Linked DNA regions of Homo sapiens. The protein of the gene in region 5 purifies or fractionates together with the protein of the main gene of each other region. This does not show direct contact. Each region holds a gene or a part of one and is shown on either strand. Other genes may lie near its edges. The genes, in order: CCDC12, AQR, GCFC2, GALC, DNAJC17, CYRIB and CZIB.

Region 1 (3,500 bases), on a different chromosome or scaffold from region 5:
GAAAGACATAAATTAATAACACTGGCTGGAGAAGAAATAGAAAATCTATACAGTCCTATAACAAATATTTTCCCAAATAAAACTTCAGGCCAAGATTGCTTCACTGAAGTCTTGTTGAACATTTAAGGAAGAAACAATACCAACTTTGCACAGCTCTAATTTTATTTGTAACAGTTTTGTCCCTGATAAAAAGGATTTCAAACATTAGGAAACAGGTCAGTCAGACTCTGTCCTGAGCAGGGCTGTATTTGAGACCCCCTGAAATCCTGCCTCAAAGGCTTCTTCCTGCTGAAGGCTCTGGGAGGAGGTGAGGGCAGGGGTGCAAGGTCTAGGTGTGGAGATGTGGGCAGGGGTGAGAAATGGGGGAGTACCTCCATTAATAGGCAGATAGGCTATGGGGAGGGCCCCAGCCCAGACCATGACTCTCCTGCCCTCCAGCCATCAGCGTTCCTGAGGTTTACTCTTCTGGAGTTGGTGGAGAGGGTAGCAGTTAAATTGGTAGCATTTCTGAAGGTTGTCTAGCCCAGGCTCTGGGCTAGGCCTTGAGGTGCTCTAGGAGATGCCCCGTGCTGAGAGGTTCTTGAAGGGAAGGGGTAGTAAAGCCTACATGTGAATAGGAATGGCCACAGGCCTGTGCCCTGGGCCTACGGTCAGACCCTGATATGCACTGGGTAGGCCCAGAGGATTCTTTTGCCTGGGAATCTTAGAAGGCTGCTTTGAGGAGGTGGCCTTTGGCCTGGCCTTTAGGACTGGCCAGATGGTGTGTTTTCTTGGGGGTTATCAGAGTAGATATTTCAGGATTTGAGACAAAATGTGGGGTGTAAGAGTGTTCTGGACAGAGCAGATGTGAGGTCGAGATGAATGGCTGTTGTCCTGGGGGTGTGGAGACCCAGTGAGAGCTTTGAGCGGAGGTGCAGTGTGGTCTGACCAGTATCTTTGAAGAGGAGGCCAGGAATGTGGATTGATAAGTTGAAGAGAGACTTAGGGGAGACAGGTTGGAGAAAGAGAGGGAAAAATGCAGGAGGCAGCTGTATTCTCCAGAGTAGAGGGGAAGGCTGGCTGGCAGGCAGGGGTGGAGGGGAATGGCTGGGGGCTTGGTTGTGGTGGGGAGCTAAGGAGGTGGTAGACGAGACTAGGGATTGGGAAGGAGGGAGAAGATGGCAAGATTTGGGAAGGGTATTGAGTGGGGAGTGGGGGTGGTGAGGCATTGAGTCTGATTTAAAGGTCTCAGGGTGAGCGAAGTGTCTCTAAATTCCTGGGGAGGCTGTGCACCTAGGGCCTTGCCTGCTTTCCTACTGAGTGTCCAGCAGGGCCTAGGCTTGGACTTGGGCTGGCTGTGGCCGCATCTGAGCACATGGGACCAGGTCTGAACTGTGTGGGGAGCGCAGGAGAGGCGGGTAGAATCAGAGCTCTTTAGAAACTCAGCGCCACTCTTCCACTCTTGATAGCCTCTCTCTCGTCTCCTTGGCAAGACTGAGGGCCAGGCATCAGGACGACCTGGATCCAGACTTGCAGCTACCGCTGATGGGTTCTGTGACTTTGGACAAATCTTTTCCTTTTCCCTGACTGCCATTTCCCAGGTTTTCCCATGGCTTAAACTGAGGACCTAGAATGGGTGATCCTGCGAGCCCTCCAGGTCTGAGGCTCTTTGAGTCTCTCAGGTAGGGGTGAGCTTCAAGTGGTCTGCGCTTCCCTCCACTATCCCGGGCAGCAAAGGGCCTTATCTTGTGATTCAGGCCAGTGTCACCAAAAGCGATTTTCCTTCCCGTGAATGCCCATTGTCCTATTTATGAATCACTCTTTGTCAGGAAGGCTGAGGTACACCTTATCTCCCCCACTTGTGTGGCCTGTTCATTTGTTCACCTGCTCCTGCCACAGATGTGGATCTTTATCTTTTTTGAGCCCCTGCTCTTTGCACAGCATCCCAGGCTGGGGTCATTTTTAACCTCATGCTGTCTGCAGAGCTAGTGCTGCCCCCCACCCACCAGATTGCTGGGCATTTTTAAAAGTCATTTAGATAGTTGGGTGTTTTCTCATTTATTAATGAATAACTTGGCCTTTGCTGAGGCACTTGAATGTCTCTGGGGCTCCAGGAGGGTGGTGACAGCTGTTTGACCTTGCTTGAGAGCCGAGAAAGGGCATGGTATTTGCAAAGCACTCCTCCCAAAGGCTGGACACTTTCCCGTAGTCCCCACCTACTTCTGCCAGGTGGTTCGGGTTAACAGAACCCCTGTGGAAAGGAGTCGTCTTTGTGGCTGGGGGTCTTGCCCCACTAGCCCAGTGTGGGGAAAGAAGAGCCCTTTCTGCTTTTCCTTCTCTGCCCTTACCCAGGGCAGGTGTCTGCCGCTCCTTCCCCTGAGGTAGGCACTGCAGGGAGTAGCCTTCAGGGTGTCCGCTGGTTGGGAGTTGGGAAGGAATTTTTTGCTAGAATTTGCAGGCTCTGGCTTGCTTCATCGGCTAGTCTTTAGTCAGGGAGGGCTGCATGTGTCAGCAGGGCCCTTGTGGAAGCCCCGTCCAGGTCCCAGCAGCCCTGGGAGCCATTTGGAGAATCCTGACTTGTTTCTCAGTGAAGCATTTATACTCTGTTCTCCCTTCCCTCTTTGGCCATCACCAAGCATCTGCCTGTCCACCCCAGGGCCTGCCTTCCCCAGCAGAGGTCAGTGAACTCTCTCCAGTCTCTCCTCGGTTTCTCCATTGCTTAAGAACACCGGCCAGAGCCCTCTGTGTTCGGCCATTGCCTGCCTTGACTGTCTTACCTGGCAATCATTGTCACCCCCTCCCCCAACCCCAGTCACCTGCATGCTCTTCAGACCACACCCTGCCTTTGTTCAAGCTCTGCTTCCCACCGGGAATGCCCTTCCCACTTCTCTCCCCCTATGCTGTATCACCCAATTCTGCCCAGCCCATCTCTCAGTAGGAAACCTCTCACCCATCGCCCAAGAACCACGTTCCATGTTGACCTCTCTCGTGTAGCTGCTGTCACTTGGTCAGTTATTTTGTTCTCGCTGCCTCGTTGCCATGAGATGAGCTGCCCTGAGTTGGGGTGGGGGGCATGTTGATCTGTTCTCATGACAGAAGCCTTTCTCTGGGCCAGGCCTCCGACCTGGTTTTGGTAGTCTGCTCCCCGGAGGTTGTGTGGCCAAGGAATGGCAGGGTCTGGTTGATGCCTGCAGTCTCCACATAAAGCAGATACCATTCTTAGGAAGGCAGTTGTCAATGGCATAAATAAATGTCTAGGAAAGGTAGTTCAAGTAGCTGTTTTACTTATAATTTATATGCAGGCTCCAGCGCATTCTGTGTCCACCAGAGCAGGCTCCCAATGGAAGGAGCTCACAGATCTCTCTTAGAACACTGCTCTGCGAGAGTCAAAGGCAGGACGCTGCCATAGTGAAGTGAGCATTGTCACCTTCTGGAGTGCCAACCCTGGCATGCAGGGAGACCCACGACAGCTCTGTCTTGGGGCCTCTCAGTCCATGCCCTGGGCCCCAGGTGTGGTCACA
Region 2 (3,500 bases), 5.8 Mb from region 5:
CTTTGGGAGATCAAAGAGGGAAGATCACCTGAAGCCAGGAGTTTGAGACTAGACTGGACAGTAGTGAGATCTCGCCTTTACAAAAAAATTAAAAAAATTGGCTTGTGCAGTGGCTCACACATGTAGTATCAATTGCTCTGGAAGCTGAAGCGGGAGGATGACTGACTGAGCCCAGGAGCTTGAGGCTGCAGTGAGCTGTAATCAGGCCACTGCACTCCAGCCTGGGCAACAGAATGAGACCCTGTCCCTTAAAGAGAGTGAGGTCTTTAAATGAAATAGATGTTGACACTGCATACCATTCAACAAGTAATGAAGACTCTTAAGCTTTGCCATTATAAATTTAATGGTGATGCTTTAGGCACTGTTGGTAAAACTGAACTTTTTACCCAAAATTTCTTACTTTATTTGAACTTAAATTCTTACGAATATATATTTGTTTTTGCCAGTAATCTTTTATTTATTTTTTTTTTTTGGAGGTGGAGTCTCGCTCTTGTCACCCAGTTTGGAGTGTAATGGCACGATTCTGGCTCACTGCAGCCTCCACCTCCTGGGTTCAAGCGATTCTTCTGCCTCAGCCTCCTGAGTAGCTGGGATTACAGATGCACGCCACCACGCCCTGCTAATTTTTGTATTTTTAGTAGAGACGGGGTTTTACCATGTTGGCCAGGCTGGTCTCAAACTCCTAACTTCAGGTGATCTGCCCACCTTGGCCTCCCAAAGTGGTGGGATTACAGGCTTGAGCCACCACACCCGGCCAACCAGTAATCTTTATTTTATTATTTAATTTGAAATTTGATGAAAACAATAACAGAGCATTTCATCTAGATTGAACAAGACTTGTTTTCCTTATCGCCTCCCTCCCTTTACCACTCACAAATACTTATTTCACAAATGTACTTGGAGCAATTAAAAGATATTATAGGCTAGGTACCATGGCTCATGACTGTAATCCCAGCACTTTGGGAGGCTGAGGCGGTAGGTCACTTGACTTCAGGAGTTCAAGACCAACCTGGGCAACATGGTGAAACCCCATCTCTACCAAAAATACAAAAAATTAGGTGGGTATGGTGGTGTATGCCTGTGGTCCCAGCTATTTGGGAGGCTGCGGCTGGAGGATAGTTGAGACTGGAAGGCAGACGTTGCAATGAGCTGTGATTGCACTGCTACACTCCACCCTAGGTGACAGAGTGAGACCCCATCTCAAAAAAAAAAAAAAAAGACATTATAGTTACCATACAATAATATTATAGCATGTTAAAGCACTTCATAATTTTACAGTAGTATTTTTTTTTACTATTATTAATGCTAGCACTACTACTGCTGCTATTGATAACTGTTAGTGAAGGCTCACTGTATGCCAGTATTTGTACTAATTGTTTATATGCCCTGTCTTATTTTATTTTCAGTAACCCTGTGTGGTAGTTTGTGTTATTAGATCTGTTTTGTGGGTAAGGAAACTGAGGCTTGGAGAGGTCAGGCACTTGCCTAAGAGTTCCAGCCATCAGTAGTGAAGGCAGATGTTTTGAACCAGTCTTCCAATTCGAGAGTCTGAGTTCTTTTTTTCTTTTTTTTTTTTTTTTGAGATGTACAGTTCCAGAGTCAGAATTCTTTTTTTTTTTTTTTTTTTTTTGAGATGGAGTCTCGCTCTATCACCAGGCTGGATGGAGTGCAGTGGCGCGATCTTGACTCACTGCAACCTCCGCCTCCCGGGTTCAAGTGATTCTCCTGCCTCAGCCTCCGAAGTAGTTGGGACTGCAGGTGTGCGCCACCACGCCCAGCTAATATTTGTATTTTTAGTAGAGACAGGGTTTCACCATGTTGGCCAGGATGGTCTTGATCTCTTGACCTCATGATCCACCCTCTTCGGCCTCCCAAAGTGCTCGGATTACAGTCGTGAGCCACCGTGCCTGGCCAGAGTCTGAATTCTTAAGTAGTACACCATTCTGCCCACCCTCACTCAAATGAATGGAAATTCTGAAGCTCTATCATATTCATTTGGATAAAGAGATGTAACAATTAGAATTTGTGTCTGTTATGTCTTCACACTTTTAAATTATTTTCTCTCTGGGTTTTGCAGGCACACAGTTATGACTCTCAAATGGAGTCTCATAACATTTATACACTTTAAGTTTAAAAAAAATCCTGATCTTGTGAATTTTTATTTTCCCTAAAAATCTTTATAAGCACATCATTTTAATGAATCTAGGGCTCTGTTTTATTATTTGTTTTTTCTACTTTGCTTTCTGTTAATTTCATATTTCGAGGAATATAATGGGATTATTTTAAATATCTCATTATTTCAATAGCAGTAATATTTGATGGCTTTCCTAAACCAACTTATTTTATATAATCTCACTCATTAAAAACTGTCAATTTAGGGTTGAAAAAAGTTGTTGAGATATTAAACATTTTTATATTTTTATAACAGGTTATTGAAGATATATATGAAAAAGAGATTGTCAAATCAAGGTAGGAATGAATTTAAATTTTATACAATGTGATTGGGGTGGACCAAGTTGGATCTTGGCTGAACTTCTAAATGTGATCATAACTTGAACCCTTTTTCTGTTTCAAACTGGTCGTCAGGGCAATGGTGACTAGAAAAACTTTAGGTGCTGAAGAGTCATAAATTATTTTTTGCCTTCTAACTTTTGGCTCAGATTAGAGGTATCAAATCCCATAGGGTTTATTTGGATTTAGATGGAATTTGAGAAAAAGTAAACATGAAGATTTTATTACTAGTATTATTTCTGATTCACCTTTTAAAAATATTCTTAAAAAGTTATGAAAGTAAGACATTATTAAATTTACAATAATATAGTATACATATGTAATGTATAAAATGTATAATAATAAACACAGAAGTGATAAAAATTATTTTTGAGCAATATGCTGTAAGGGGTGAGTTTCAATAAATCATCTTTTCTGCCCCCAATCCCTGGTTCATGTATATGGTTCATATACATCTGTTCTATTCCCCACGCCTTCACATGTTTTTTCAAACACAAAAGGGTTTGTACTCTACATGCTATTTTTCATCATGCTTCTTTTAAAAAATTTAACAGCGTGTCTTAGGCATCTTTTTGTATATACACCTGCAGACATGTATGTCCAGTGAGTATTTTAAAAGGATATTTGACTAAATGGGTCAAAGGCCATCTTCAGGATTTTGTTCTTTATTTGGAAAACAGTAGGAAGTAAGAAGAGTTGTAAGCACAGTGGTATTTGAAAAAGAGAATTTGGGTTTGTTTGTTTTTTTTCTTTTTTTGAGACAGGGTTTCACCATGTTGGCCAGGCTAGTCTCAAACTGCTGGCCCCAAGTGATCCACCTGCCTTGGCCTTCCAAAGTGCTGGGATTACAGGCATTAGCCACTGCACCCAGCAAGAATTTGGATTTGGAGGGAGCAAGAGGCAGGGAATTAATTAGGTGAGCATTGTAGTAGTCAGCTTCAAGATGTCATAGATTTGGCTTGTGTGGAAAGTTGGGAGCGGAATTGTCC
Region 3 (3,711 bases), on a different chromosome or scaffold from region 5:
TATTTTCACTTCTATAAAGAGAGTTCATGGATTCTGTATGCTCTCAACAACTTTTAGAAAGATTTGTATTTTTACTGTACTTTTAAAAATTTGTTAAAACTTTGTAGAGTTAGTAGATATTTTTATGGTTACCTTTGGGATGGCTTATGCATATCCATATTTTAAAATGTAAATCTCCCCCAAATTAAGCAAATTCAAAAAACTATAGCACAGGGGAATATAGAATTAAAACTATAAATCAAAAACATTTTATTAAGCACTTTTTAAATGTGTTTTTAATTTTCCTGTCCATTTTTAGAGACTCAACAGTTGTTAAGTACAGGTCTCCAGCTTGGTATTTATCCAGCAGTAGCTAGCTCTCTGTTCTGAATGTTTCGTTCACAGCACCAGCTGTTTGGGGGCTTAAATACAGTGGTATTCCTGTTAACTCCCTCTCCAAAAAAAATTTTTAAGCCCAGATTTGGCCGGGCATGGTGGCTCACGCCTGTAATGTTAGCACTTTGGGAGGCTGAGGCAGGAGGATCACTTGAGCCCAGGAGTTTGAGAACAGCCTGGGAAACATAGCAAGACCCTGTCTCTAGAACAAAAAATTTAAAAATTAGCTAGGCATGGTGGCATGCGCCTGAGTCCCAGCTACTGAGGATGCAGAGGTGGGAAGATTGCTTGAGCCTGAGAGGTTGAGGCTGCAGTGAGCTATGATTGTGCCACTGTACTCCAGTCTGACCAGCAGAGCCAAGACCAAGTCCCTTTAAAAAAAAAAAAAATCAGATTTGTATTATTTGCTAATGTCATGATGTGTGAATATACTCCCACCATTGCTTCCACCACAATGTCTCATACAAGCTAATAGCAACGCAGCACTACTGAAATTTCTGATAGACTTACTATATGCTTTTCTACCTTTTACAGTAATTCACATTGAAATTTGCCAGAATACATCCACTAATGATCTGTATTTGAACTTTATAATTAAGTGGAGATGGCAGCATCTCTCTGTGTTTTATGCTACTTTAGATATTGGCTTAAGGTAAAGCTTTTGTTTTAGATTAACAACTGATGATCAGGTTCTGAATTGACCGCTGTTCCCTCATACATTGCATTTTTAAAGGGAGAAATTTGTTTTGTTTTTCAGGGATGAAGTCGAAGAAATAATTCTTATTTTGGTGAAAATAAAAGCTTTGAATCAAGCAGAATCCTTCATAGGAGAGCATCACCTAGACCATCTTAAATCACTAATTAAAGAAGATTGAATAAACTTTATTGGAAAATGCTAAAATTTTAATATAGTTACACTCAGTTCCTTTGTTTGAGAAGAAGCTGGTGCCTCTCTCTTCTTTATTCCCTGTAATAGAAGGTAGGATTTGAAAAAAAGCAGGACTCCACCTCTGTATTCCCCCGTGCTTTACCTTCTGGCATCATGAAAAGCTGCCATGATTCTGTGGTGTTCTAAGGAATTAAATGCACTGGAGCTTTAAGAGCTCAACGTGTTTCCCTTTGATTCTTTTGGCTGGTCTTTCAATTTTCTTAAGAGGGGAACTGGAGAAACCTTGCTAAAGGTTTTAGCTTAAGTGAGCATGCTACTAAGTCTTCTGTCCTGAACCACAATAATATCTTTTAGTTCTCTTTAACTACCTTTATTTAAAAATAAGTCAATATGAAAATCTCAGTTGGAGTGAATTATTTGCTAAGTATTAAATGATTAAGGCATGTGCCGATTGTCAAATTATCCTTCAGAAATCTGTACCAATTTAATGTACCAACATAAGCATAAGTGAGTGCCAATGAATCCCTACCAGCAGTAGTTATTATCCTTTTTAAAAATGCATTGAAAATTTGAAAGGTAAAAATCTTATTTTAATAGCGTATTTTGTGTTGGCTATTAGAGAGTAAACATATTGGTTTTGGCCATTTGTAATTATTTCTGAAATATCCATCTTTTTCTTATGGACTTTAAGACCTTTATATTTTTAAAGATATTGATTTTTTGCCCATGCTTGTGGCAGAAGTTTTCCTTATTTGCCATTTTTCTTTTATTTTTTTTTTAATTGTATTTTTTGAGACAGGGTCTGGCTCTGTCACCCAGGCTGGAGAGTAGTGGCACAATCTCGGCTCACTGCAACCTCTGCCTTCTGGGCTCAAGCAATCCTCCCACTTCAACCTCCCAAGTAGCTGGGACTATAGGCATGCGCCACCATGCCCAGCTGATTTTTGTAATTTTTTGTAGAGATGGGGTTTCGTGACATTGCCCAGGCTGGTCTCGAACTCTTGAGCTCAAGCAGTCTACCCACCTTGACCTCCCAAAGTGCTGGGATTACAGGCTTGAGCAACCATGTTTGGCCTTTCTTTTAAATTTGTTGATGTTTTTTGAAGCATTAAGTCATTACTTATTAGCAAGTTACTATTTTGTTTTTTTGTCATTGGTGGTAGGACTAAGAAGGAAACAGATATTTTAAATACTCACAACATGTGATTCATTTTCTGATAAAATATTTGTCTAATAAAACAGAGGCAAGATAATTTAATCAAAAGAAATTAAGAAAATTTTCCAAAAATGTTAGTTTACTAGTAATTTTTCTAAGTCTACTTATTAAATAACTTAAGGGAAACTGTAAATATATTTTGCAAATTGTTGTTCAAAAGATAATTGGAAAAAATTGAATATATTGTAGGATTTGAATATACAGCCTACTTTTATGTCACCTCTACCTTCAAAACTACATATAATTTATTTTAGGAGTTGGATTTGTTATGTCTGTTGCAGTGAGGACTTGTGATTCACTGGTATGAAGAATTTTTTGATGTTTATATTAGTAACAAAATTATACAAGGATAGAATCTCATCTAGAAAATGCAAACTATTGTTGAAAAGCAGTTAGCATTTCCACACAACCGCTGTCCCCAGAGATAACTGCTGTTTTCATTTTAATGTTATCCTTTTAGACCTTTTCTCTATTTACAAAAATGTTACGTGTTTCTATGTGTACATAGTTTTGGGTTTTTTTTTTTTTTTTACGTAAGTGGCAGACACTTTATTGCACATGAAATTTGTAATTTTTTTCTATTTAAGTACACATTTGGAAATTATCCTCTGACTTTTGGATTTTTAACTAAATATGTTGGACGTGTTCCTTTATATATTTAAGTTCAGCACAGAAACTTTCCTACCTTTTTGTGGAAGATAAAATATTAAAACTGCTTTCAAAACTACAAATTGACTTAAACTGCTATAGTAATTTTCAATTAAATTTCATTATACCTGGAGTTTGAACGTTAAGGTTTTTATCATATACTGTAATTCAAAAATTTACCTAAATCTCAATGTAAAATTCTTTTTTTTCTTATTACTATGAAATGGATGGAATAAGGAGGGGGAACACAACTAGCAAGAACAAAACATTGGGTTGGCAATTGATATCACATCTTAATTCTTTCCCTGAATTTCTTTCAGCTTTTTGTTCACATAAAGAATGTGAAATTTTTACAGAATCAGACAGATGACTTTAAAGAAATTTTTTTCATGATGGAAAAATCACCTCAATTGATTTTTCCATTTCTTAGGTCCTTGAATAAATGATACTTAGGTATACCTCAGAAATGCCATATATGATACAAATCCTGCAAAAGACATCATGAGAAAATACCAGCAGTATCTATCATGAATGTAGAAATAAAAGTCCTTAAAATAATTAGCAAATCAAATCCAGCAATGTA
Region 4 (3,500 bases), on a different chromosome or scaffold from region 5:
TTACATTTTTATCACAAGTTGTCTTGGTGTTTCTTTTTTATCAAATCTTTTAGCACAATCGCATGGAATTTAGTGGCTAGTTACTATGAACAGTTGCCTTATGGGAGATGCGGGTTGATGACGGCCCAGGAGCCATGGAGTGGGCACTACGTGGTAGAATCTCCTGTCTGGGTATCAGGTATGGTTCAGTTCCATCTCTCACTCCCTAAATTCTTCTCTAAGAGACAAAGCAGAAAAAAACTTAGAGAAGATTATATAAACTGTGTGTCTATGCGTGTTTTAAGTATAGATTTAAGTTTTAAGCAAGATTTGCCAGTGTTTTATAAGAATATTTTGGGTAACTAGACTACTCTCTGATTATTCTAAGACCAGGCTTTTAGAAAAGTGTAGGAGAGGAGGGGGAGAGAGAGGAAAAGGAGGAGCTGTGTAGTGATAGAGACACAAATAAATAATCATCTAAGGATATAATTACAAATGATGATAATTGCTAATAAGATTATGTATTTATAAACAGAGTAGAAGTCTTAAGATTAGCTTTGAAGACATTTTGTTCTCTTATATTAATAGAGTTTCAATTACAATCGTATGCTAGCAAAATCAAAGGGAGATGATTAAAAATACTGTATTATTGAATCATCAAATGAATAAGTAAATATGAAAGTTATGTGAAATATGGCTTTATATTGTCCCCTAAATCTGTGAAATGTGGGTTGTGAAAAGGTAAATTTCAAAATAGGTAACAATGTAAAGCTCAAAAGATTTTAAAAGTGAGCACGTACTGAAGATTTTATGTTACTCATATGATATGAAGGATCCTGGCAGATAGATGGTAGATGTTAGAAACAGTTGAAATGAAAAGTCAACATAGCACAAATTTTCGTAGTGTAAGGGAATTGGAGATGAATTGTCAATGGAGGCAAATTGGGTTTCCCACAACAGGGAAGAAATTAATTAAATTTCTACCAGACAAGACATAATTTACATAGCTCAGAGACAATGAACAGGGCTATAGATAATACATCCGTTTTTATTGAAACACAAAAGTTTTACTACAGTATCATTCATTAGTCACAAGGGAAATTGAGATTATGCAGGGATGGATGGCATAGTGTCACTTTTTCATGAGGAGATAATAACCATACTAATAGTGATTATATTTTAAACAAAGTAACAAAATCTATTGCTGAATAATGTTGAAACTTTTCTGCAGTTTTTTTGTAAAAGATTATAAACATTTATTACCATTTTGTTTTAAAATTCTAACAATCTTTCTAAAAAGCTAATTTCTTTAAAGGTAAAATGCTTTCAGAAGAAAATTATGAATTTGGAGTGAATTTGTTTTTATTTTAAACTTAAATTTGGTGGTTTTCCCTTTTAGTTGTGCTCTCCTAAGACAGATTTGTAATCATATTAATCATGTAATCATGATATTATTCTAAACTCCTTAAATTGTCCTCCAAAAAATATAAGAAAATTAAGGTTAGACTTGTATATTGGACTTGTATATTCTAATATTGAGAATTATATGAGAAAACTAAGGTTAGACTTGTATATTGGACTTGTATATTCTAATATTGAGAATTATATGAGAAAATTAAGGTTAGACTTGTATATCAGCGCCTTGAATGTTGAAATTGTTGGCCCCACATTATCTAGATGAACTAATGTACTCTTAATTTTGTGATTTTTCCAAGGGTTGGGACATGGTATATTGCTTAGTGCATTTTCAGGACGAGCTTAGGAGGTGACCAATAAATGTACATGTGGTGGAAATAAATATGTTTGAAACCATAAAGTTAGTTTCTGAAATTCATTATTAACTTTTTAAACCTTTTTTTGGTAGCTATTTTAGGATGGATTAAATAGTGATGAACCAAGTTTGGGGGGGGAATAACTATTTTATTCTTAAAAAAAAGACTGATCATATTCTTGAACTGACAGGTTCATTTATTTTTACCCATCATTCCAGGAATCTTCTTGCAATTGTACCATTTATCTAGATTAATTATTTAAAAATTTAAACATGAGGTTGACGGATATATTCCTGCAAAATAGAAAATAGCTTGTTTGGATGAATCAGACTCAAATTGATATACAGCTTTTTTTTTTTCCCAAAAGAAATACTATTATTACCATTTTTGTCTTATTTGGAACTTTCTGTTTTTCTATAGCTCATACCACTCAGTTTACTCAACCTGGCTGGTATTACCTGAAGACAGTTGGCCATTTAGAGAAAGGAGGAAGCTACGTAGCTCTGACTGATGGCTTAGGGAACCTCACCATCATCATTGAAACCATGGTAAACTTTTGTTGTTGCTATTGGATTAACTCACTTCTTTACTATTGGAAAAATAAAATATAAAACTGAATACTTTTGTTTTACATGTAAATACATAAGCATACAGACAGATGCCAAGATCTTATGGCTTTCATTTAAAAAATTTTAGCCATGAGTCGTAAAACATAGCACACAACTCACTGATTTGTACAAAATAGTTGGCTCTCATCTTTTCTCCACTTTGTTCCTGGCAGTTGGGATAAAATTAAGGTTACCTGTGTACCAATATTTGTGGAGACGACCTTCACGACCTTCCCTTGCCCTGATATGTATATGGAGGCTGTGGCTTTTTCCTTTTTCATCCTCAGGTTGTTTTGGGGAGACCTTAAGTCTGTTGAGAGCAACGAGCTTAAAATTCAAGTGATTGAGGGGCTTGAGTAGGAAGGGAATAGGTCTGACAGGTGGACAGAGGCATGGGAGGAGGTAGGGGCTTGAAAGCAGACATATCAAGGATTCAAGGGAACTGAATGAAAGAATGAAGGTGAAAAAACATGGAAGCAGAAGCAGAAGCCAGTGGAGAGAAGAAGAAGTCTGAGAGGTGCCAGTGTGGGGAGATCTCAAGCTTCCCAAAGAGGTCAATGAAGTTCCAACAAGAAGGAGGTAGACAGAATAGGAAGTGCATATAGTCAGCAGGGCTTTGTGAAGAAGGATTTCTAGCAACTAAGTTCCCATGGGAGAAGCAAGATCCAAAACAGAGAACAGAGTAGCCTTAAAAAAATGGTGTGTGTGTGTGTGTGTGTGTGTGTGTGTGTGTGTGTGTGTGTGTATCATATCAGGTTCTGAATGTCAGCCTACAGTTTGGCCAACTCCTGACCATAGACTCTTAAAAAACAAATTCTTTCAAATATCCTACTATCAGGTTTGAGCCAGGACAAACAGTAAATATTCCTGGCAGTATTGACCTTTTCAAACCAAAGGTGTCTATTAAGTGACTCACAACACAAACCAATAAGCCTTTTATGTCTTATCGTGGATGAAGAGGATCCTCAAAAGAGGGTGTAAAAAGATGCAGCCCTCCCAGAATCTACACTTCATCGTAGTCAAAAGGTTGAGAAGTGATCCTCCAAAGACCTAGAACCACTCCCAAGGATAGTCAAAAGAAAGACCCAGATAACCTCCCTACTCCCCACTCCCTGTCAGAGCTGGCGATAGTTGGTAAACT
Region 5 (3,500 bases):
CTTGGAGCCACCCTTGGCGGGCCCCCAGCCCAACCCTGGGCAGCAGAGCCCGCCCATCACAGGCATGGCGCTGCTCCCCATTAACACACCCTCTGCCCCCCTTCCTGTTCCTGCTCGTGAGGGCCTGACAGCGGGGCTGAGTCACCCATACCAGCTACAGGTCTCTTCCTTCCCCAACAATCGTTCCACACGCCTGCCTTTCAATTAACTCCCACCCGCCCCGAACTCTTCCTACCCAGACACTGTGGGCAGGGAGCCAGGCGCACCTGCTGGGGGCCCAGGGTGGTGGGGCTGTGATCAGAAAGGAAGCCGCGTGGTGACACATAAAGCAGGGCTGCCCCCACACGAGTCCCCAGAGGAATCTTAAGCTCCCCATTGCCCTGGGGTGTTGGTCCCAGCTGCCCCATCCCTGCACGCGGATGCTGCAATTACCCAAGAGCACGAAACCTGGCTTCCCACCTGACTGAGTCAGCTGAGAACAAAAACACATCTCCACCGCCACAAACAGCCAGGCCACTCATCAGAGTCCGGGAGCCACTGGCAGAGAGGGCACGGCCCCACACTGCCCCAGAGACATATAGGAGCCAGGCAAACACCAGGGCGAGTGAGCTCGGGCCATCTGCTGCCTGCCTGTGGAAGGAGCGCTCGCCAGCCTCACCCAGCCCGAGAAGGTCCACCTCTGCCTCCGCCGGAGCTGCCCTCATTCTGGCTCCAGTAAGTGCTGCTTCTTCCTCCTGGGTTTTTTTCCACTACCCTATTCAGTAACCAGGCCACTCCTGTCCCTGTGGGAAACTCTTGCTGCCAGGAACTCCCAGCTGTCTGCTCTCCTGGGCAAAAAAGTTCCTTCTTCCTGAGCCCTCCTCTCACCATCCAAGATGTGGTCAAAGGTCTGTGCTGAGTGGAAACCCTGAGGCCTCTGCTCCTAGGGGAGCCTCCCCAGCTGCTGGCACTCACTGCCCCAGCAGGGACCACATGCACCCTGGCTGCTCCTGAACACCTGTCTGCTGGCTCCCCTGGGCCCCATGGAGACCTGGCGGAAAGGCTCCTTCCGCAACGCCTCCTTCTTCAAGCAGCTGAGCCTGGGGCGGCCACGGCGGCTCCGGCGACAGAGTAGTGTGCTTAGCCAGGCCAGCACAGCAGGTGGGGACCACGAGGAGTACAGCAACCGAGAAGTCATCCGGGAGCTACAAGGGAGGCCAGATGGCCGGCGCCTGCCACTGTGGGGGGACGAGCAGCCCCGGGCCACCCTGCTGGCCCCACCCAAGCCCCCACGCCTCTACCGAGAGAGCTCAAGCTGCCCCAACATCCTGGAGCCCCCACCTGCCTACACAGCAGCCTACTCTGCCACCCTGCCATCGGCGCTCTCTCTGTCGAGTGCCCTCCACCAGCACTCAGAGAAGGGCCTTGTGGACACTCCCTGCTTCCAGAGGACACCTACCCCAGACCTCAGTGATCCCTTCCTCTCCTTCAAAGTGGACCTGGGGATTTCACTTCTTGAGGAAGTTCTGCAGATGCTAAGGGAGCAGTTTCCTAGCGAGCCCAGCTTCTAAATGGGGTGAGGGTGGGCAAAGCCGGGGTGACTGGAAGATCCAGAGGCTGGGGATTAAGGAAAGGACAGGGACAGGACTCCAGGCCCATCGCTGGAGGGTTCAGGCAGGCAGAGCTTCTTCATCCTGGGGGAGGATTCCAGGATAGGAATCCAGGGCTCTGCCTGCTCTCTGGGTCCTGGACAGTCCTTCCAGGCACCCCAGAGTGGAGGGACAGAGGCAATCTGGAAATGTTGGGGGGGCGGCCCTTCCTGGCAGGACCCTGAAGAAAGCTGGCTATGCCGGGAAAGGGAGGCTGTGCCGGGAAAGGGAGGCTCTGTGCGGCACTACAGGAACCAGGTAGAGGCTGGCAGAGCCAGAAGGTGGCACGGGGTCAGATCAGGGAGTGGGAGGACACAGACTGAGCAGAAGAGATGAGTGCCCCATGCCAGCCTCTTTGGAAGCCACTGTCAACAGAGAGAGGTCACAGGACAAGCTTGGGTAAAGGCAGTCCAACCCAGGCAGAAGAGGAAAGTGGGAAGGCCCAGGAAGAAAGGGGAGAAGGCCTGACCCTGTCTAATCTGGTGGCCACTCACTGCATGACACTGAATTGAAATAAATAAAATTAACAGTTCAGTTCCTCAGCTGCACCGTTATTCCAGATTCCACATTCCAAATGCCCGGTGGCCACACATGATTAATGGCTACCACACTGGTCAGTGCAGAATGGACGTAAACATCGCTGCACAAAGTTCTAATGGACAGCGCTGTCTAGACCATGGCCTGGAGCCACCAGCAAAGGGGAGGCGCATACAGGGGCTGGCCACATAGGAAGAGATAGGTAGAGATAGAGTATAACTCAGGAAAAAGACCAGGCAAATCCTTAGCAGAAATGAGGACGTGGCTCAGTCTGCCAACACAGCTACCCGGAGCAATCCCTGGTGAAGGAAGGCAGCTCTAGAGAATGCCAGCCACAGGCACGCGCACGGCTTGCAAAGGGGTACTTTGGGGAATTCCCAGAATTACTAGTGATGGGAGCCCTGGCAGGTTTCCTTCCTCGAAGAGAGGAGAACTGGATCCAGGGATGGGCATTCAACAGCGAAGCGGCACAGCTGGTTTCCAGAACCGTCTCCCGGGATTAGACAGTTCTGCCGCCTGAACCCTCCGACGATGGGCCTGCCAACCAGGCCAAGCCCACTGGGTCAAAGCCACAGGCTGTGCTACGGCCCCACCCCATGGCCTCACCAGAACACAGAAACCAGAGCCCAGCAGCACTGGCTGGGCCATGTGTTGGTGGCCCCCCGGGACTCGCTAAGAGTAGCAAAGGGGAGAGGGAAGCTCTGACACACACCATTTCTACGACCTAAATCAGTGGCCTCCCTCTTTCCTCCTCTTGTGTATAGGTACCGAGCTGTGGATACAGGAGAGAATGAATAAAATTCTAACACAATCTATGGAGTGTTATCTGGGGCTGTGAAATGCTGGGACTTGAAGGTGGGAATGAGGTCTCTAAAGCAGGGCCCTGAGTCAGGCCCAGGCCAGTTTGTTTCCCTCCATCCAGGATCTGGGACACACTTGCAGAAAGCTGCTTTCCAGTCACCCCAGTCAAGTGGAGGGGCAGGCAACGGAGCAGGCTGGCGTGGGTAAAGTAATGAGAGCAGCCTCCTGCCAGCCTGCTGAGGGGCTGTGGACACACCAGACAGGCCCTGGGCCACTGCAGAGAAGGGAAGAACCAGGTTGCTAGATCTTGCCCCCAAAGCAATCTGTTCCACCAAGGTGGGGACAGGTGTGGCCAGGAGCCCCACAGCCCTAGCCTTTGTATCCAGGCCAAAAGACACCAGGGCCATGGTTGCAGGTTGGGGGTTACACACAAGCTGGAAGGTCTACGCTTCACCCAGGCAGGGCACCCAGACTCTGGGCAGGCACCACCCCGTGTCAGCAGGGTAGCCAGAGTTCCTTCTTTTTTTTTTTTTT
Region 6 (3,500 bases), on a different chromosome or scaffold from region 5:
TGCCAAGCGGACTGTGGTCTAGCGGTAGCCTCAGTGTCAAGGAAAAACACCCGCTACTTAGCAGACTGGGAAAGGGAGTCTCCCTTTCCCCGGGGGAGTTTAGAGAAGACTCTGCTCCTCCACCTCCTGTGGAGGGCCTGACATTAGTCAGGCCCACCTGCAGTTATCCGGAGGCCTAACCATCTCCCTGTGATGCTGAGCTTCAGTGGTCGCGCTCCTAGTCCGCCTTTATGTTCCATCTTGTACACCTGGCTCTGCCGTTTAGTTAGCAGTAGCAAATTAGTGAAAGTACTAAAAGTCCCTGATAAGCAGAAATAATAATGTAAGCTGTTTCGCTCTTTCTCCTCTCTCTCTCTGCCTTGGCTGCCAGGCAGGGAAGGGCCCCCTGTCCAGTGGACATGTGACCCATGTGGCCTTCCCTATCATTGGAGATGGCTCACACTCCTTATCCTGCCCCTTCGTCTTGTATCCAATAAATATCAGTGCAGCCTAGCATTCGGGGCCACTACCGGTCTCTGCGTCTTGGTGGTAGTGGTCCCCCGGGCCCAGCTGTCTTTTCTTTTATCTTTGTCTTGTGTCTTTATTTCTACACTCTCTCGTCTCTGCACACGGGGAGAAACCCACCGACCCTGTGGGGCTGGACCCTACAGTAAACTTGCCATACTTGCTTGTTCTGTACTTGCTTGTTTTGTTCTGAGGCCTTGGAGCCCCTCCTGTTGAGGCAGATACCTAAGGGAAGGTTGTATGGTCAGGTAGTAGGACAAACTGCTTTGTCTCCCCTCAGTCTTGCTCATGCTTTAGGGGCTTACATTAGGGACTGCCTCCAAGGGTCATAATAAGTCCCTTCAACATGTTAGCTTCGTTTCACTGGGCAGAATTTATCAAAATGTATTTTAAAGGCCCCAAATGCCCACCGTTAATTGTGGTCATGACTCTTGGTTGTCTTAAATCCTTTAGAATCCATGTCCTCAGGTTCTCTTCTGAGAGTTTGAGAGTAGATAGATGGCAGTTGATGAGAATAAACGACTGTTGTCTCTATAGGGAAACTCTCCCCAGGGGCCTCCTCTTCCTAATCAACTAGTTATTCTTCCCTGTCCTAGCTTGTGGACTGATTTGTCATCTTTATCATTCCTTCTAGTTGTCTTTTCCTTGCAACCTCCTTCTGTGGTTTTGGCTCCTGCACTCATCTGCCAGCTTCCTTTGGTTCTTCCAGAACTTAGGGCTTAATAGACTATTAATTTTCTCCTGGTCATCTGCTTTTTAAAAAATCATAATCTCATGGTTTTGTTTTAGGAGCTTCATCTGAGTCCAATCCCAGGCATCTTTTCTTTGTCCTCTCTTTCTCTCCAACTCATCCAGAGACCTCTGGGACATTTTCTGTGGGATTGTCTCCAGTTTCTCTCTTGAGACAGAGCATTGTAGGCTAGTAGGACTGACTTGTGCCAGCACAGGCCTGCAGGGTGAGGCTGATCTAGCTGCTTCAAAGGCAGATTAGCAGATTTATCATCTTGAGCTTCCCTTTCAACATAGATCTACCATGGAGGGCCTCAGCCATTCATAGACAAAAGTTCTGCAACTACTGGTCACTGACCATCCCAACTTAGTCAAGCGACCTGACTCCAGTCCCAAAAGTGGTAGAGAACTTGGAATGCTGAAATTAACCCTGAGACTTGATAAAGTCTAGGCAGATGCATTTTTCTTTTTTTCTTTAACAGACTATAATAATATTTTGTAAAAATGTTTTTTTCTGTTCGGTGTCTCTCTTACTTAGTTTTCCAGTTAACACCAACAGAAAGAATGAATCTTGGGAGAAGTAAACCATTTTTAAAATATAACCCAAAATGTTTGACTTTTAATTGATCTTCTTCACATCCACTGTTACACCTTGATACACCATCCATACCCCTATAGTCCATGCTCCACACTGCAAATGAAGTAGCATTTTAAAATGCGAATCTGCTGACGCCACTCCTCTGCTTAGATGATTTCTCTAGGGACATTAGGATGCCAAAGCCCGAGTACTTAATGTGGTCCACAAATTACATGTGTATGAATCATCTTAGTCCTGGTTACCCTCCTCCTTGCCCTCTGTGCTCCTATATTGGTGGTGTTGCAGTTCCTCAAGTATGTCATGCTCTTCTCAGTTCAGGGTCTGGCTTCCTGCCTTTCTGTCTGCAAACTCATGTTCATCCTTACTACATACTTCAGTCTCAGTCCAGGAGTCATTTATTCAGGGAGATCTTTTCCTGGGCCTTCCATTAGGTGAGGTCTTATTTTTATACCTTTCCACTGTACTTATTTTCAGCACATATCACAGCTGTAATCATTTGTCTGTCTTCTCTCTATATAATAAGGCTCCATATGGGCACAGGGAGCATGTCTGTCTACATCCATTTTCCCAGTGCTTGGCACAGAGTAGCCAGTCAGTACATTTTCAGACTTACTGGAAAAAAAAGGATAATAGCTGTCATTTAGAGTTATTACATGGATGAGAAATAATGTCTGTGAAGAAATAGTTCAGTACCTGGTATCTGACAGACACACAGGAAGTACCTACTATTGTTTTTAATCAGTAGATTAATGTTTTGTAGGGTTACAGAAGTAATTGGTACTATTGGTAGTAATCAGGAGGTTAATGTTTTATAAAGTTACAGAGGCTACGTACAATGTTGCTTTATTTCAGAGACAGTTTATTGTGGTAGAAAGAATAGGGCTTTGGAGTCAGAAATACCTAGCATTTACTAGCTATAACTTTGGGCTCTAAGTTCTTTGAAACTCATTTGATCCATCTGGAATGACCATGTCATAGTTGATGGTAAAAATCAAATGGGAGACTATATTCAGTGTACAGTAGATGTTGACTCATACGTAAATCTTCATAAATAGGAAAACTGGGGTTTTTTTAAAGTTACGGGCTGATGACCTGACATAAAGTTTTAAATTTATCATTAATATTTGTTTGTTAATCTGACATTTATTAACATCAGATCATAGTTTAACTCTGTAAGCTCTTATTTTCTCTGACCAGAATCTAGCAGCATTTTCCAGTTCTGTGATCTGTAACTGAATTCATTTGATTTCTATGGCTTTTTGAAATATTGAAATGAAATATTAGTATTTAGTATTTAATATTAGTATTAGTATTTAGTATTTCCATTATCAAACATGGTATTTATTAGCCTGGCATCCCAAAAGTAGCACTTATTTCAAAGGGACCATTTTGCTCACATAATGAATTAGAATATTTATATTGTAGTCTTGAAATGTCAAGTTCTAAGACAAGAAGCTTATTGAACCACATATTTTGTTCTCTTTAGTAGCTGAAAGCAAACAGTTTGTGGTTATAAATAAAGGATGTATTCAAAGTATGAGAAATTGGTAATTGATTCATAGGCATATACAGACAGTGTGGACACAGTGCCATTGAAGAAAGTTACTCAGCTGTAGATAATAGTTACCATTTCATAAAACCAAATTCCACACTGTGTGAAGTGATTAAA
Region 7 (4,300 bases), on a different chromosome or scaffold from region 5:
CAAACGACTACCCCACCCATGGTTTCAGAGAAAGCTTGCTAGTCCCCTAAAATGAAGACAAGGCAAGTGCTCTCAGTGATGCAAACTGAACAGCTAGGTTGTGTCAGAGGTCCCCTGAGCTCTCACAGCCCAGCCCTCATAAGAAGGCACTGCAAGAGGCAATATACCAAGCACTCAGTGTACAGTGGATAAATGACTGAGTCAAAGAAGAACTAAGTTCATGAGTGAATGTCCTATGGCAGGTCACTCTGATGCAGGCATGACTCTAGAACCCAGACCTACTAACTCCAGTTAGGATTTAAGCCCACCATCCCTGCCACTACAGCAGCAAACTTACATTGTAAGGCTTGATGGTGCTGCTTAAAATCTCTGAAATAGAAAAGAGAACACAAAGTTGACTTGAGTCCATACCCTCGCCCCAGCCAGGTGCCCACATGTGGCCCTGAAAAAGATCACGCTGTACAGGTGTCGGCATCTTAGGCCTGACTCCACCCTCAGGTAACATGAGTCTACTTTCAGCCTGGTGCCAGGAAGCTGTGGGCCACCCTGGCAGAACTCAGTACGCACAGCCTGACCTACCGATGGAATTTTCTCTTGCACACAGCTTGCACTTCTGGACCATGGAAGCACTGCCACGGCCCCCCTTCAGTGCCACACTGTCCTGGCAAAAAGCAAACAGAACTTTCAGTCACATATGAATTAGATGTACAGTCCTGAGGAGATCGAGCCCACCATTTATTGTCCACTTAAAGAGACCAAGACCCAGAAAGGGTAACTTACTAGGACAAGACTCCTGGGAAGGCTTCCTGAGGAAAATAAAAAAAGGGCTTCCCCTTGATTTTGAACTCTGCCTCATACCTCAAAGATGCCTATTGAATCCAGTGCTGATCACACTGACACCTACCCTCCCAAACCACAAAAAGCAGGGAGCAAAGAACTGGAGAGATGAAGGCCAGTTTCCCCAAATCCCTGCCCAGAAGTGTATGTGTGTTTGTGAGTGTTTATGTTGGGGGTTGGGCGGGGAACAGTTACCATCAGCCGGATGTACTGCCACTTGTCCGAAATCTCACCACAGTTGCCACATTTCATCTTTGGGGAAAAAGAATGTTAGTAAAGCAGCTGGCTCTGCTGCACAGACACCAAGGAAAGGGTAAGAACAGTGGGAGGTGGGCAGGCTCATGATCTACCTTCTTGATGGCAATCTCACTTCATCCCTAACACCTGCCCCAACAAGGACAAAACTAGAACTATCTCTGGGCAAAGGATAGGTAAGGCTGTTTCCTATGCCGGCGTGCCCACCCTCCTCTATGAAGTGCTCAGTGTGGCCGGGGATTCAAGGCACCTGTGGTGCAGAAATGGTTTCAGCGGAGGTGAGGGGGGGGAATATGGAGAGATTTGTTAGAAGATACAAAATTACAGCTATATGGGAGGAATAAGTTCTAGTGTTCTATAGCACTGTAGGATGACTATAGCTGACAATAATATATAGTTTCAAATAGCTAGGATATTAAATGCTCCCAACACAAAGAAATGATACACGTTTGAGGTGAATATGCTAACTACCTTGATCTGATCACAATACATTACATTTATCGGAACATCACTATATACCCCATAAATATGTACAATTCTGTGTCAATTAAGAAAAAAAAAGAGAAATGGCCTCAGCAGGCCCCCGACCCACTCTGCTTGGTTAGCTTTATGTTCCCACAGGCCCTGTATGTCACTGGTATAAGCACTTATCACTCTATTGTTACTCTATTTTTCTGTCTCCTTCACTCGATTCCGCTTCTTCAAGCCAAAGAACAGATTCTCCCAAGTAAGCCCTGGTATTCAGGCTTCAAAATCCTGGGAAACAAAAGTAGTCCGGAGGCAGCTTCCCGAAAAACAGGGCTTTTGAGAGGTACAGAAGGATGCTGGGATTTTTGACCAGGAGTAAAACAGAGCAGAAGCTCTGGGATCTGGAAGAGTGAAGAGCCTCGAACTGCTGGGGAAGGGGAGGCCTCTGTAGACCATGCCACTAGGGTACCAGCTTTACCAGTGTGGGAGGGCTAAGGAAGGGTGGATTACGCACAAAATTAAACTATTTCACAATAAAGAAAACCAAATCAATAAACGAAAGGCGAACTATTCACCTTATTAAATAATCACAAGCGTCCCTTCAAGTAGCATTTCGTTTAGTGTCCATTTACAGACCACGAAATATTTAACACAGGGAAGAACTACAAAATGAAGCTTTCCAAGACTGCCAATTAGAGATAAACCAATACACTTTAATAGAAAGCAAACGTAAAATTCTAACTAGGAAAACCCCGAACACTTAATGTGCCTGGTTAAATATTTTCTCATACTGCCGGAGAGAAGGCTCCGGTTCAGCACTGAGATCAGGACGGGCCTCCTCTCCCCGGGCCCCGCCCCGGCCGCACCTTCAGGTACCACCGGAAGTCCTCGCCCACGGGCCGGAGGTTGGTGATGTTCTCCAGCGTGGCTTTGAGTTGCAGCGCGATTTTCTGAGGGGGAGGGCCAGAGCGACTGCGTCAGCCGTGCCTGCGCAGCCCCACGCCTGCCCGACCCTCCCGCATTCCCAGCCGTGGGTGCCACAGGGAGACACTCCTTCTGCCTCCTGCTCCTTCAGCGCGCACCCACTCGCTTCATCTCCTCCTGGCGCGAGCTGTTGCCTCCCAGACCCTCGCCACCTCCCCTCCGTGTCCCCGCGGCGGGCGGCCTCCCCTCACCCCCATGGTAGCCCTCTCCGCCCGGTGCTGGCTGCGGCCCTTGCCGTTGCTTTCCGGCGCGTCGTAAAAGGCGGGTGCCGTCTGCGCACCCTCAGTAGGGCGGGGCCGGGGCCGGGCCGCGGGGCAGGGACTTCTGCGCGCCGCTGCTCGCCTGGCCCACTGGGCTTTTCGCATCTGGGGATCTGGGGCCAGTGGAGGTCAGCCAGGTCCGCGAGCAACCTGTGCTCAGGCCAGCGGAAGCCTGACTCCAGGATTCGGTGGTGCCACAGACAGTTACTGAACGCCAATTTTGTGCCTGCTTTAAGCGAACAGGACAGTTCCTGACCCTCAGTTCTTTCCAGGCTCTTCACTACTCTGCCTGCCCTGGAACTTCTCAGATCACGTCAGCTCCCTCTGCCCAGGGGAAAAGCTACAAAAGGAAGAGTTCCAAGACTGCCAAATAAAGATAAACCAATACGCTTTAAAAAGTAGAATGTATTGGTTTATCAGATTTGGGGATGATGCCTTTCTTCAAACTGCCCTTTCCTGTTTCACCCAAGAGACCTGGTTTCTAGGCCCTTCTCCAGAGTTTGCCCTGTGTCCACATCCTTCTCACTGTGGTCCTTGCGACTGGACATTCCCCTTCAGCTGGCTCTTTTTTGGGAGCCCACCTGGCTTATCCTTCTCTCATAACGTTTATTGAACTTTATTTTACCTGGCCTCCTGTCCAGGCTACATCTGAGACCATGCAGGAGCTGTGGAGATTAACGGTAAAAGGAACAGCACATTCAAGACTCTTCTAGGAGGTGGGGCAAGATAGCCAAATAGAACCCTCCAGTGATCCTCCTCCTCCTCTTCCCTGGCAGGAACACCAAACTGAACAACTATCCACACAAGAAAGCACCTTCATGAGAACCAAAACTCAGGTAGCAATCACAGTAGCTGGTTGTAACGTCACATCAAGATATAAGGCAATGGCTGGGTGCGGTGGCTCACACCTGTAATCCCAGTGCTTTGGGAGGCTGAGGCGGGCAGACCACCTGAGGTCAGGAGTTTGAGACCTAGCTGGCCAACATAGTGAAACCCTGTCTCTACTAAAAATACAAAAATCAGCCGAGTATGGCAGTGCACACCTGTAGTCCCAGCTACTCCGGAGGCTAAGGCAGGAGAATTGTTTGAACCCGGGAGGTGGAGGTTGTAGTGAGCTGAGATCATGCCATTGCACTCTAGCCTGGGTGACAGAGTGAGACTCTATCTCATAAAAGAAGAAAAAAAAAGGAACAAGGCAATGAAGAGGGTAGGAAAGACAGTCTTGAATTGCTACCACCACCCCTCCCTCATCCTCTGGCAGCACCTGGCTGCCTGGCATAGAGAGAGAATCTGTGTGCTTATGGGACTTTGCATTGGAACTGAGTTTTGCCCTGTCACAGTGGAAAGCAACTCAGGGCAGAATTCAGCTAGTGCCCACAGAGGAAGCACTTAGAGAAACCCTAGCCAGAGGGGAATCATCCATCCCAGTGGTCAGGTTCTGGCGAGCCCCACCACCACTGGCTAAAGTGCTTCAGGGTCCTAAATAAATTCGAAAG

What was found.
Region 1: the proteins of DNAJC17 (region 5) and CCDC12 purify together in Homo sapiens (affinity purification with mass spectrometry; one large-scale study listed by BioGRID and IntAct). This does not show direct contact.
Region 2: the proteins of DNAJC17 (region 5) and AQR purify together in Homo sapiens (affinity purification with mass spectrometry; one large-scale study listed by BioGRID and IntAct). This does not show direct contact.
Region 3: the proteins of DNAJC17 (region 5) and GCFC2 purify together in Homo sapiens (affinity purification with mass spectrometry; one large-scale study listed by BioGRID and IntAct). This does not show direct contact.
Region 4: the proteins of DNAJC17 (region 5) and GALC purify together in Homo sapiens (affinity purification with mass spectrometry; one large-scale study listed by BioGRID and IntAct). This does not show direct contact.
Region 6: the proteins of DNAJC17 (region 5) and CYRIB purify together in Homo sapiens (affinity purification with mass spectrometry; one large-scale study listed by BioGRID and IntAct). This does not show direct contact.
Region 7: the proteins of DNAJC17 (region 5) and CZIB fractionate together in Homo sapiens (co-fractionation; one large-scale study listed by BioGRID). This does not show direct contact.

What each region holds. Positions count from the first base shown.
Region 1 is NC_000003.12:46,942,246-46,945,745, reverse strand, and holds part of CCDC12 (coiled-coil domain-containing protein 12), read left to right. Parts: intron 1-3,500.
Region 2 is NC_000015.10:34,959,743-34,963,242, reverse strand, and holds part of AQR (RNA helicase aquarius), read left to right. Parts: intron 1-2,428; coding exon 2,429-2,469; intron 2,470-3,500.
Region 3 is NC_000002.12:75,662,205-75,665,915, reverse strand, and holds the end of GCFC2 (intron Large complex component GCFC2), read left to right. Parts: intron 1-1,132; coding exon 1,133-1,250; 3' UTR 1,251-3,211; downstream 3,212-3,711.
Region 4 is NC_000014.9:87,962,183-87,965,682, reverse strand, and holds part of GALC (galactocerebrosidase isoform a precursor), read left to right. Parts: intron 1-53; coding exon 54-178; intron 179-184; exon of another isoform or gene 185-1,479; intron 1,480-1,539; exon of another isoform or gene 1,540-1,795; intron 1,796-2,171; coding exon 2,172-2,299; intron 2,300-3,500. UniProt on the Homo sapiens protein: Hydrolyzes the galactose ester bonds of glycolipids such as galactosylceramide and galactosylsphingosine.
Region 5 is NC_000015.10:40,769,474-40,772,973, forward strand, and holds part of DNAJC17 (dnaJ homolog subfamily C member 17), read right to left. Parts: intron 2,977-3,500; exon of another isoform or gene 1,551-2,976; coding exon of another isoform or gene 1,023-1,550; exon of another isoform or gene 507-1,022; intron 1-506. Other genes in the region: C15orf62 (uncharacterized protein C15orf62, mitochondrial precursor), read left to right, coding at 1,023-1,550. UniProt on the Homo sapiens protein: May negatively affect PAX8-induced thyroglobulin/TG transcription.
Region 6 is NC_000008.11:129,856,061-129,859,560, reverse strand, and holds part of CYRIB (CYFIP-related Rac1 interactor B), read left to right. Parts: intron 1-3,500. UniProt on the Homo sapiens protein: Negatively regulates RAC1 signaling and RAC1-driven cytoskeletal remodeling. Regulates chemotaxis, cell migration and epithelial polarization by controlling the polarity, plasticity, duration and extent of protrusions.
Region 7 is NC_000001.11:53,217,835-53,222,134, forward strand, and holds the start of CZIB (CXXC motif containing zinc binding protein), read right to left. Parts: upstream 2,801-4,300; 5' UTR 2,742-2,800; coding exon 2,736-2,741; exon of another isoform or gene 2,526-2,735; intron 2,511-2,525; coding exon 2,427-2,510; exon of another isoform or gene 1,967-2,426; intron 1,090-1,966; coding exon 1,033-1,089; intron 662-1,032; coding exon 580-661; intron 370-579; coding exon 338-369; intron 1-337.